Homo sapiens: one gene and its partners. The protein of the gene in region 3 purifies or fractionates together with the protein of the main gene of each other region. This does not show direct contact. Each region holds a gene or a part of one and is shown on either strand. Other genes may lie near its edges.

Region 1 (3,650 bases), on a different chromosome or scaffold from region 3:
GAGAACAGGACACCCAGGCGCGATCGTACACACGCTAGGATGCATTCCTGGAGCAGACGCAATTCTCTAGCCCGAGTGGGGAATGTTCTGGAGGAAGGAGTGGGGCGGAGCTGCGGTGCCCAGAGACACAGGCCCCCTGAGGGTCCGGGAACCTCCCAGGCCACTCGCCCCTGCCTGGTCGGAGAGCAAGAAGTGGTCAGTCCCAGGAGGCACCACACCACCCGATCTGATCGCCGCGCCTGGTGGTCTCCAGGTGCCATTTTAAAGCTCTAAAGAAATGCCCAGGAACTGTGGGTGGGGGGGGTGCTCCCACCACCTCTGAGACCCTCATCTACAGCCCCTGCCCCCTGGGGCCGTGGGCAGCTGGTCCTGCGGCCTGCAGACTAGGAGACGGGGCCTAGGGGTGTGGCTCTCACAGGCCATGACAGGAGGGCCAGGAGGCCTCTGGGAGGCGAAGGCTTGGTCTGGTGTGGGTCCCACCATCGGGCACTGCTGGAATCAGCCTGCAGAAGGGTCCCTCTGGCCAGGAGGCAAAGGTTCTGCACTGGGTGCAGCCTGGGGCTGGGAGAGGACCCGTGGGCTTCAGAGAGGAGGCGATGACCCCATACATACAAGAAAGTCAGGGTGAAGTGGGAGGAGACCTCAAACCCCAGATCCACCTGTGCCAGTGAGCAGAGGCGCCAGGGTGGGGTCAAGACTGCCAGGTGGAGAGCTGGGAGGCAGCCTGCACAGGAGGGCTGTACCTCCCCACAGCTCTGACCCCAGTTCTCCAAAGGCCTCCTGGACAAGGAGCTTGGCCCCCAGAGCAAGGAGCTGCTGAAAACCATCCCCACTCAGGGGCAGGGCCGGTGATTGGAGGCCTGGGGATGGTGTACCCCATTTTTTAACAGCAAAGCAAATGTGAGACACCACCCCACAGGACGGGGCATCTGTCACACGGAAACCCAGGAGGAGGAAGGCGGGCTGGACAAGGGGCCCTTCACCAAGAGCGGCCAGGGCGGCGGTCCAGGCTAGCAGGGCCCAACTACAGCCCCCTTTGGAAGCCACTGGCCCAGGGACAGCTCTAGGAGCGCCTGGAGGTGGAGGACGGCAGAAGCGGCCACCGTGGCACATGGGGTGAGGACTCAGATGCCAGGAGGATGTCCTCATTTTTGGAATAACTTTGTTTTTTTCTCTTTCTTTTTCAGAGATGGGGTATCCCTGTGTTGCCCAGGCTGATCTCAAACTCCTGGGCTCAAGTGATCCTCCCAAAGTGTGTTGAATATATATATATATATATATATTTTTTTTTTTTTTTTTTTTTTTTTTTTTTTTTGAGGCGGAGTCTCACCCTGTTGTCCAGGCTGGAGTGCAATGGTGTGATCTCGGCTCACTGCAACCTCCGCCTCCCAGGTTCAAACGATTCTCCTGCCTCAGCCTCCTGAGTAGCTAGGATTACAGGCGCCCGCCACCACGCCCAGCTAATTTTTGTATTTTTAGTAGAGATGGGGTTTCACCATGTTGGCCAGGCTGGTCTTGAACTCCTGACCTCGTGATCCACCCACCTCAGCCTCCCAAAGTGCCGGGATTACAGGCGTGAGCCATCGCGCCCAGCTGAGTATTTTTAAAGTCTTAAATGAAGTCATTTGAAATGGGGTCATGTGATTGCTACTCCAGCCTTAAGAATCCTTTCTGGGTTTTAATGTTTCGCGTTATTCTAACAAAGCCGAATGTGTATCGATTTCCCCAGGAACGCGCATGGACCTTCCCAGGGAAGCTGAAGGCCGTGGGGTGGGTGGGAGGGGGAGGAGGCCTCTCTCGTTAGAAACGGGCCCTGCTGGTTGGGCTGAAAAGTCACAGGAGAGGCTCCAACCAGCAGTCCCAACCTCAGGGGACCTCTCTGGGGCCACAGGCATCATCTGGCTAGAAAAGCCCCAGAGACATGAGTGGGCTCAAGTGTGTCCTAATGGGATGGAGAGTCCCAAGTCTGCAGCCACTAAACTGGCAGGCCCTTCCCCATGTCACACTTGACCATGCAAGGGGACACTCAGATACACGGTGACCAGCCCGGCCGACTGGACTTCAGGGGGACAGCATGTGGCCGCCCATCCACGGGGCCCCGGTGGCAGGTGACCACAAACACAACAGCCAAGGGACACGCTTCCCGGTCGGAAGTGGCAGGGGGTTCGGGCCCTCCAGGCCCGTGGACAGGGCCCCCAGGGATTGCGGCTCAGTATACAAACCCCCCAGCCAGGCCCCAAGGGTCAGCCTGGTTCAGCCAGCCCCCCACATCGACCGTCCCCCGAGCCCCCTCATGTCACCCAGAACGCATCCCCTCGACCTAAACTTCACAGAGCAACAGTCCCCATGAGAGAGCCGTGGAGACGCCGGGAGCCCCAGGAGCCAGGTGGGGCGTGGCTGGCCGGGAGAGAGGCCCCCTTCCTCTTGTGACAAACCAAGGGTCCCTGGCGTCCCAGGCTCCTGCAGCTTCTCGAGGTGACTGAGACCGATGGGCGGCGGCTCCGCCTCTCACCACCACAGGTTCGGCGGTTCCTCGGCCACTCTGCTCTTAAATAAGGTGATCTCATCCAGGTGCACCAGGGGGACGTCCCGGATGACGTCGGTCAGGCCCTCGTGGAGCAGAGGGAAGATGACGACGTTTAACGCGGGCCGCTCGGCCTGGAAGCTGAACCAGAGACAGGCGGTCAGCGGATTACATGGGTGGCCACGGAGGGGGCGGAGCCTGCTGGGGAAGCCCAGGAGGCACTCACACCTGCCTCCCCGTCCCGGGCTCACCTGGGGCTCCCAGACAGACCATGCCTGCCAGAGTCACCCTCTAAGTGCCTCAAGGGCCCTGTACGTGGCAGACAGAGCTGGGGAGGAGCACGGCAGCCGGGAACAGGCCACACGCTTCTCTCCAGGCTCAGGGGGCACCCGCTCCATGCCAGCCACGAGGATCAGAGGCCCCGGAGGCCAACCCTGCTCTGCAGACGTGCTGCTGGGCCCCAGGGCAGCAGAGGGACCCCACTGCAGGAGTGGCAGATCCGAGGCCCCTGGCCCACGGAAGCCCCACGGCCAGGACAGAGAGAAGGGACAGGTGCCCACACCCCACAGCCGCAGGTGGGCCACCTCAAGGGGGTGCGACTGCCAAGTCAGTGAGGCAGCAGCAGTCGCTGGGAGGAGCAGATACCCAGGTGGCCACTCAGGAAAAGCACACGTTTGACCGCATGACAAATGGCAGGTAGGCGACCCCCCCCCAATGCCCCCACCCCCAGGCGACCAGCCCCCGCCACGCTGTGCACGAAAACTCATGCACAATTGCCACGGGGTGCCCACCGAGTGCCAGACGCTGCATTGAGCTCGACAGACATGACCTCATTTTGCCTTCCCCACAACCCTACAACCAACCACAGTCCCCCAGCGGGCCATGAAGCAGAACAGGGACCCCTCCACAGTCAGAGCAGGCCACCAGCACAGCCCTACTGGCCCTCCTAGGCCAAAATGCAATGCAAGTGCATTTGTGGCTTGCCCCTGTAATCCCAACACCTGGGAGGCTGAGGTGGGAGGATTGTTTGAGGCCAGGAGTCCCAGAACAGCCTGGGCAACATAGGGAGACTTTGTCTCTATAAAAAATTTTAAAAAATGAGTCAGGCATGGTGGTGCATGCCTGT
Region 2 (3,650 bases), on a different chromosome or scaffold from region 3:
CACTCTGCAGCACATAAGGACTAAAAGCCCCATTATTACAGGTTTAACAATGATAGTAAAGCTACCCCCACTCTTCTGTTCTCATCAGTTGAGTTTTATGCTTCCCAAGAGTAAGTTATGTTGTGTCCCCAGCTGTACTTACTTTAATGACATGATTTAACTAAATATATAAATGAACAAAATAATGCCAAATATAGAGTTGCTTCTAGAAAATTAAGATAAATATTTTAGCAAGAGATAAAAAGCAGTTGCTAAAAAAATTAAGTGCTGTGAAATTGTATGCCTCACAACTATAAATGACTGGGGGCATACTAATTTAAAAGTGTTTGGTTCTACACGAAAAGACTGGTTTTTGAATATATTTTTAGATGGAAATAAAACGTTACGGTATTTCTTATGAAAGAAGGTAGCAGGACAGCTAACAATTCCTACTACTAAGAAATTTTACTTAGGCCCTCAGCTGTAAGCTGAAGTTTCAGTTTACAAGGAAGCACCAGAAAGCAAACGTCAGCCTCCTCAAACTCAAATATTGACAGTTTCTTCCCCTGTCTAGCCCTATTTCTCTGCCCCGCACCCCAACCACCTCTTTTGTTACTAAGTAGCACAGTACTAGGGGTACTGGGAACCCTAAAATTTGCTTTCTCACCCAATGCTATACCTTGTTTTTGATGTGCTCCTTGACCTTCTACCTCTTTCTCTGGAATGAGATCTTCTCCGCCTTGGGCTTTTGGATCGTCGCCGACTCCTAGACTTAGAATGTGACCGCCGTCTCGATCTGCTTCTTGACCGCCTAATAGTGTAAAAGGAAGCCAATACATGTGTATAAATGTAAAAAGACTATAAATTTTGTGCTTAGTATCAGACAAAAGATTCGGACATATGGACTAAACAATTAAATGGGGGATAATTCCCTTCCATTTGCTATTATTTAGCCCATAGAACAAACACCTTCAACACCTTAGAAATTAGTAATACCTTTTAACACTTGGAATTCCTCACCTTTTAATGATTTGCTCAACCTGTCAGATAGGTCCTTCTATGCCCACTGTACTTACAACTCCAAGGTTAAAAATACTACTAGATCATGAAGGAGAATAAAAGTATGACTTATTTGCATCATCTTATACAATTATATAGCATTTTAGCATGTATTTCTTATTTGATTCCTCATTAGTGCAGCTTAAACCTTCCTCATCATAAATCAAATACTTATATCACGCTATATATAAACTACAAATTGGTCTCGTAAGTCCATAAAGTAAATGCCACTATTATTTCTATTTTATAAAGAGAAACTACTTATTGTGTTGCCATCTCCTATTTCGAATTTTTCTCTGAAACAAATTCCACTCCTTTAATCCACAATTTAGGAAACTCCAGGCAATGCAGACCTTTTACAGATATATACAATTTGTATAAACTGCCTCTTTTACTCTCATTTTTCCCTGACATATCTGTTTCTCTACTCCCTGCACCGAGCCCCCATCCATTGTGTCCTGACCTGGCTCTTCCAGGACTAAGAAGCACAATTAACCTTTAGATGTTGTCATCCTCCCTACTGCATTAAAACTCATTCTCCTCTATCTTTTAAGCGATGGGGTTTTGCCATGTTGCCCAGGATGGTCTTGAACTCCTGGGCTCAAGCCACCAGCCCACCTTGGCCTCCCAGAGTTGGGATTATAGGCATTAACCACCACAACCGGCCCATTCTCTTCTATTTTAAAAATTAAAAATAAGTTGCAATCCTTTGCTTAGTCTTGATCACTTAACTTTTAGTGACCATTCAACTTCTCTCTGTGCAACATTTCAAATATAGTCTAAATTTTCTGCCTACTTTTCTTTTCAAGGTACAAGAAAGAGTATGGACATCTTAAAGACTTGTGTTAAACTCTCATTTATAAGCCAGGTAACTTAAGAGTATTATCTAACCTCTCTGACCTTGTTACTTCAGCAGTCAAGGATAGTAACACCTCTATCACCAAATAATGACAAAGATTAAATGCAGTATATAGAGTCTAGCTCGGTGCCTTAGTGTAGGCACACACAAGTGACCCTTGAATAACATGAGCTTTAACGGCATGGTTCCACCTACACACTGTGTTTTTTTTTTTTTTTTTTTTTTTTTTTTTTTTTTTTTGCCACCAACCAAATGTGGATTAAAAACAGTATTTGAAGGATGAGGAACCCATGTATAGTCAGGACTGAGTTTTCCTATATGTGGATTCCAGAGGACTTGAGTATGCATGGATTCTGGTATAGATGGATTTGTAACCAATCCCCTGCATATACGGAGGGGACTGTACATTAAATATTGATGTCCTTCTTTCCTCTTACTGATGTACTAATATAGCTTCTGTTGCCATAACTCCCTAAAACAACTGCCTCAAAACCCATAGTAATGCCTCAATAAACTATTTGAGTTATTGAACTCAATTAACTTTAATTTTAATCTCTTATTTTCAGCCATATTTGAAACTATTTACTAAACAATTCCTTGCAATAACATCTCCACATCCTAAGATGTTTTTATCTACTTAACTACCCTACCATAGGCTCCACAAAGACATGGGAAGTAAGTCTTTTCATGACTGTATTCTTGAGCAATTACTACACTGCCTGATTTAAATAAAAGGCACCAATAATATACTTTGAATGAAATATAGGCATATAAAATATCAGAATCATAACCTTAAGAGATTAAACAGTTGTTTTCAAAGGGGAATGTACTACCGTCACTTTTCTACACTTACTAGTTCATATGAGCTTTTAACCAGCAAAAGAGATTAGTGTAACATATTTTTAATAAAGTCAAAAAGCTTGTGAAAGTCATGGTCATTTAACACACTATGTGATGCTTGATACTACAACTGGGCTGGACTCAGTGGCTTGTATCTGTCACCCCAGCACTTTGGGAGGCCGAGGTGGGCAAACAGCTCGAGCTCAGGAGTTCGAGACCAGCCTGGGCAACATGGCAAAACCCTGTCTCTACATAAAAAAAAAAGGTGCAAAAATTAGCCAGGTGTGGTGGTGCATGCCTGTAGTCCCAGCTGCTCAGGAGGCTGAGGTGGGAGGATGGCTTGAGCCTGGTGGGGGTGTGGGGTGTGGGGGGTGTGTGTGTGTGGTGAGGGTTACCACAACCCACAACAATGATTTCTGTTACGATGTATTACAAGTATCTGGATTCAGGGACATATTTCACTTCTACTTTTCACTGGTCATAGTAAAGTAATTAATATTAAAATGAGAGAGTCCCAGTAAGATTTAATATAAAGAAAAAGACACAGGCTCTCCCTTTTTTTTTTTTTTTTAAGACGGAGTCTCGCTGTCACCAAGCTGGAGTGCAGTGGCGCCATCCTGGCTCACTGCAATCCCCGCCTCCGGGGTTCAAGCGATTCTCCTGCTTCAGCCTCCTGAGTAGCTGGGATTACAGCTGCGCGCGCCACCACACCCAGCTGATTTTTGTGTTTTTAGGAGAGACGGGGTTTCACTATGTTGGCCAGGCTGGTCTCAATCTCCTGACCTTGTGATCCTCCGCCTCGGCCTCCCCAAGTGCTGGGACTACAGGCGTGAGCCACCCCACCCGGCCCAGGCTCTCCTTTTTCCTAAGAGTTTGGTAAAAGGAAACACATATAAATTGTAGTAATCATGAG
Region 3 (3,650 bases):
GCCACTGCATTCCAGCCTGGGCAACAGGGTGAGACTCTGTCTCAATAATAATAATAATGACAATAATTTCTAGGTTTTTAAAGTTCTTTTAATAAATAGCGAGAGCATTGTAATTTATATTTTTTAAGATCTAGTAAGTACCTTCATGTCTCATTCAACATTATTCTACTTTGCTTAGTCCTAGAGCTGTCTGAATTTTTGCTAAATTAGACCTTACAGAAATATGAGATGAGCAAATACCAAATCATTGGAAACTACTATGGGTGGGAGGTAGGGAGACGTGATTTCTCCAGGTTTAAAGATAAATTTATATAGATCCTTTTCACTCCAGATACTTTAACAATAATTTAATATTCATTTTAAAATGTTGACCAGATGTGGTGGCTCACGCCTGTAATCCCAGCACTTTGGGAGGCCGAGGCTGGTGGATCACCTGAGGTCAGGGTTTCAAGACCAGCCTGACCAACGTGGTGAAACCCCATCTCTACAAATACCAAAAATTAGCTGGGCATGGTGGCAGGCACATGTAGTCCTGGCTACGGGGGCGGGGGGAGGGCTGGGGGCGGGGGGCGCGAGGCGGGTGCTGAGACAGGAGAATCACTTGAACCCGGGAGGCAGAGTTTGCGGTGAGCTGAGTTTGTGCCACTGCACTCCAGCCTGGGTGACAGAGACTCTGTCTCCAAAAAAAAAAAAAAAAAAAAAAAAATTGTTAGAGAACCTACTACATGTTAGACTCACAGCTGTTCACTGTTGCAGCCATTAGTTACATGTGGCTATTTAAAATGATATAAATATCTAAATGCTCAGTTTCTCTGTCAAGTAGCTAACTTATATTGGGTAGTGTGGATAAGAACATTTTGTTTTGATTGATTGACAGGGTCTCATTCTGTTGTCCAGGCTGGAGTGCAGATCATAGCTCACCGCAACTTTGAACTCCCTTACTCAAATGATCCTTCCACCTTAGCCTCCTGAGTACCTGGGACAACAATTGTGTACCACCATACCTGGCTATTTTTAAAATTTTATTTTTGTAGAGACAGGGTCTCACTATGTTGCACAGGCTGGTCGCCCAACTCCCAGGATCAATCGATTCTCCCACTCGGCCTCCCAAAGTGCTGGAATTACAGTTGTGAGCCACTGAGCCCGGCCATTTTCTTTAATTCTGAATGAAATAGGGGTTTAAATAGAGATGTATGCTCTGTCAGTTTTTTTTTTGTTTTATTTTGAAACGGAGTTTTGCTCTGTCTTGTGCTCACTGCAGCCTCCGCCTCCTGGGCTTAAGTGATTCTTGTGCATCAGCCTTCCAAATAGCTAGGATTACAGGCATGCACCACCGTGCCTGCCTGAGTTGTATTTTTAGTAGAGATGGGGCTTCACCACGTTGGCCAGGGTGGTCTTGAACTCCTGGCCTCAAGTGATCCCATCTACTTTGGCCTCCCAAAGTGCTGGGATTACAGGCATAAGTCACTGCAGCTGGCCTCTATTAGACTTTTTTTTTTTTCTTGAGACGGAGTCTCTTTCGTCCAGGCTGGAGTGCAGTGGGCGTGATCTCGGCTCACCGCAGCCTCTGCCCTCCGGGTTCAAGCAATTCTCCTGCCTCAGCCTCTCGAGTAGCTGGGATTACAGACGCCTGCCATTGTGCCTAGCTAATTGTTTTGTATTTTTAGTACAGATGGGGTTTCACCATCTTGGCCAGGCTGGTCTTGAACTCCTGACCTCCTGATCCACCTTCCTTGGCCTCCCAAAGTGCTGGGATTACAGGCGTGAGCCACTGCGCCCAGCCTGTAAGACTTTTTAAAAGGATTTTTCTGGCTGCAGGGTTGAAAGTAAAGTGCAGAGTACGGTGAGACCACTTTAGAAGACTTAGAATATTCCAGACAAGAGGAGATGGTGACAGAGACCAGAGTTTGATAGGTTAGATATGGGGTATAAGAAAAAGTGAGGAGTTAAGGGTGGTCTCAAGATGTTGATCTCAAGATGGTCTGGCTAGGTGCGGTGGCTCACGCCTGTAATCAGCACTTTGGTAGGCCGAGATGGACTAATCACTTGATCCTAATAGTTCGAGACTAGCCTGGGCAATATAATGAGACCCTGTCTCTACAAAAAATGCAAAGTTGGGCATGGTGGCACGTGCCTGTGTCCCAGCTACTCAGGAGGCTGAGGCAGGAGGATCGCTTGAGCTGGGGAGGACGAGACTGCAGTGAGCCGTGATAGCACTACTCAGCTCCAACTTGGGCTACAAGAGTGAAACCCTGTCTCAAAAATGTTTATTTTGAGCATATGACGAGATGTGAAAAGCTACAGGGATAATAGGCTTAAGAATGAGAATAAGGGAGTCCTGTGTTAATTTTGAGTGTAGGTATGTTTGAGGTCTATTAAATATCCAGATGAAAAGGTTACCGAAGCAGTTTGATGTACAAGTCAGGAGTTCATAGAAATTAAAACAGGAGATAGAAATTTGGACGCATACAATGTAAGGGTGGCTAGTTTAAGCCGCGCTACCAGATGTCCTTTGTAAGGACTGTAGTGTGGTTGGAAATTAGGTGCTCTCTGCTCTAGGCCACTTCCAACATTTGAAGGTCAGGAGATTAAAAGGAATCGTCTAAGGAGATGAAAGGTAGGAAAACCAAGAGTAGTGCCCTGGAAGTCAATGACGTGTTTCAAGGAGTGAGTTATTTAACTGAGTCAAATGCTGGTTCAGTAAGAGTACTGAGACTGGGTTAATAAGGTCATTGGTGACTTGACAAAGAGCGATTTCCAAGAGTGGTGAGGGTGAAGTGTGATTACGGTGCTTTGAAGAGACAGGGAGAGGAAGCGAAGGCATTCTTAGGGAGTTGCACTTTATGAAGAGCAGAGAAGTGGAGTGGAAGCTTCAAGGTTAGTTGAGAAACTTAGTAACATTATTGTCTGAGTGCCTTTATTTAGTCCTATTTTCACAGCAACCTGTGAGATAGACCTGGCAGTTAAATCATACCAATTTTATAGATGATAAACCCTAAGACATTATTAGTAAGTTAGGTGGTTCCCTGCAGTTTCTCATCAGTGCTTGCTCCTGTCTTTTCAACCAAGACGCTATGACTTTGCTTGGCAGGGTCCCAAGAAATCTAATTCTGGCTGTACCATAATAGATACACCTTTAATTGTTGCCCTTCTCAAAAATGTAGTGAAGATTAGTGTGTATGTGAATGTAATTGTTTATAGAATGCCTGTTGCATCATCTCTTTATTAAGAATAGCAAAATATTCCAAAAAACCTTAGGAAACGGCAATTAAGTCACTTGTTAAGCCGCTTTATCCATAAATATTTTAATTGCAATATAAGGAATAGCTTTTAACAATCAGATATTAAGATAATTTCTGAGTTTGATTTGCATGCCCCAGTTTCAAATCTTTAAGTGAGATACATTGCTAAGAAGAAAATACTTAGCTTTTTGTAGTTACTTTTCTGTTCGTACATGAAAATGTCTTAGGAGGAAAGAAAAAATGAGTATTATTTGGGCAAATATATCTAAGTCATTAGCCTAAATGAGTGCTTCTCAAACTTGAGCATGCATTAGCATTTCCAGAAAGGCTTGATAGTCTAGGCAAAATACTTTGACATCTACTTCAGCAAAATGGCTTGCTGAAGAAACCAAGACTGGCAGGGATATT

What was found.
Region 1: the proteins of ZNF207 (region 3) and FBXL18 fractionate together in Homo sapiens (co-fractionation; one large-scale study listed by BioGRID). This does not show direct contact.
Region 2: the proteins of ZNF207 (region 3) and SRSF11 purify together in Homo sapiens (affinity purification with mass spectrometry, with the first as the bait; one study listed by BioGRID). This does not show direct contact.

What each region holds. Positions count from the first base shown.
Region 1 is NC_000007.14:5,479,267-5,482,916, forward strand, and holds part of FBXL18 (F-box/LRR-repeat protein 18), read right to left. Parts: intron 2,666-3,650; coding exon 2,509-2,665; 3' UTR 1-2,508. UniProt on the Homo sapiens protein: Substrate-recognition component of the SCF (SKP1-CUL1-F-box protein)-type E3 ubiquitin ligase complex.
Region 2 is NC_000001.11:70,241,824-70,245,473, reverse strand, and holds part of SRSF11 (serine/arginine-rich splicing factor 11), read right to left. Parts: intron 791-3,650; coding exon 659-790; intron 1-658. UniProt on the Homo sapiens protein: May function in pre-mRNA splicing.
Region 3 is NC_000017.11:32,353,131-32,356,780, forward strand, and holds part of ZNF207 (BUB3-interacting and GLEBS motif-containing protein ZNF207), read left to right. Parts: intron 1-3,650. UniProt on the Homo sapiens protein: Kinetochore- and microtubule-binding protein that plays a key role in spindle assembly. ZNF207/BuGZ is mainly composed of disordered low-complexity regions and undergoes phase transition or coacervation to form temperature-dependent liquid droplets.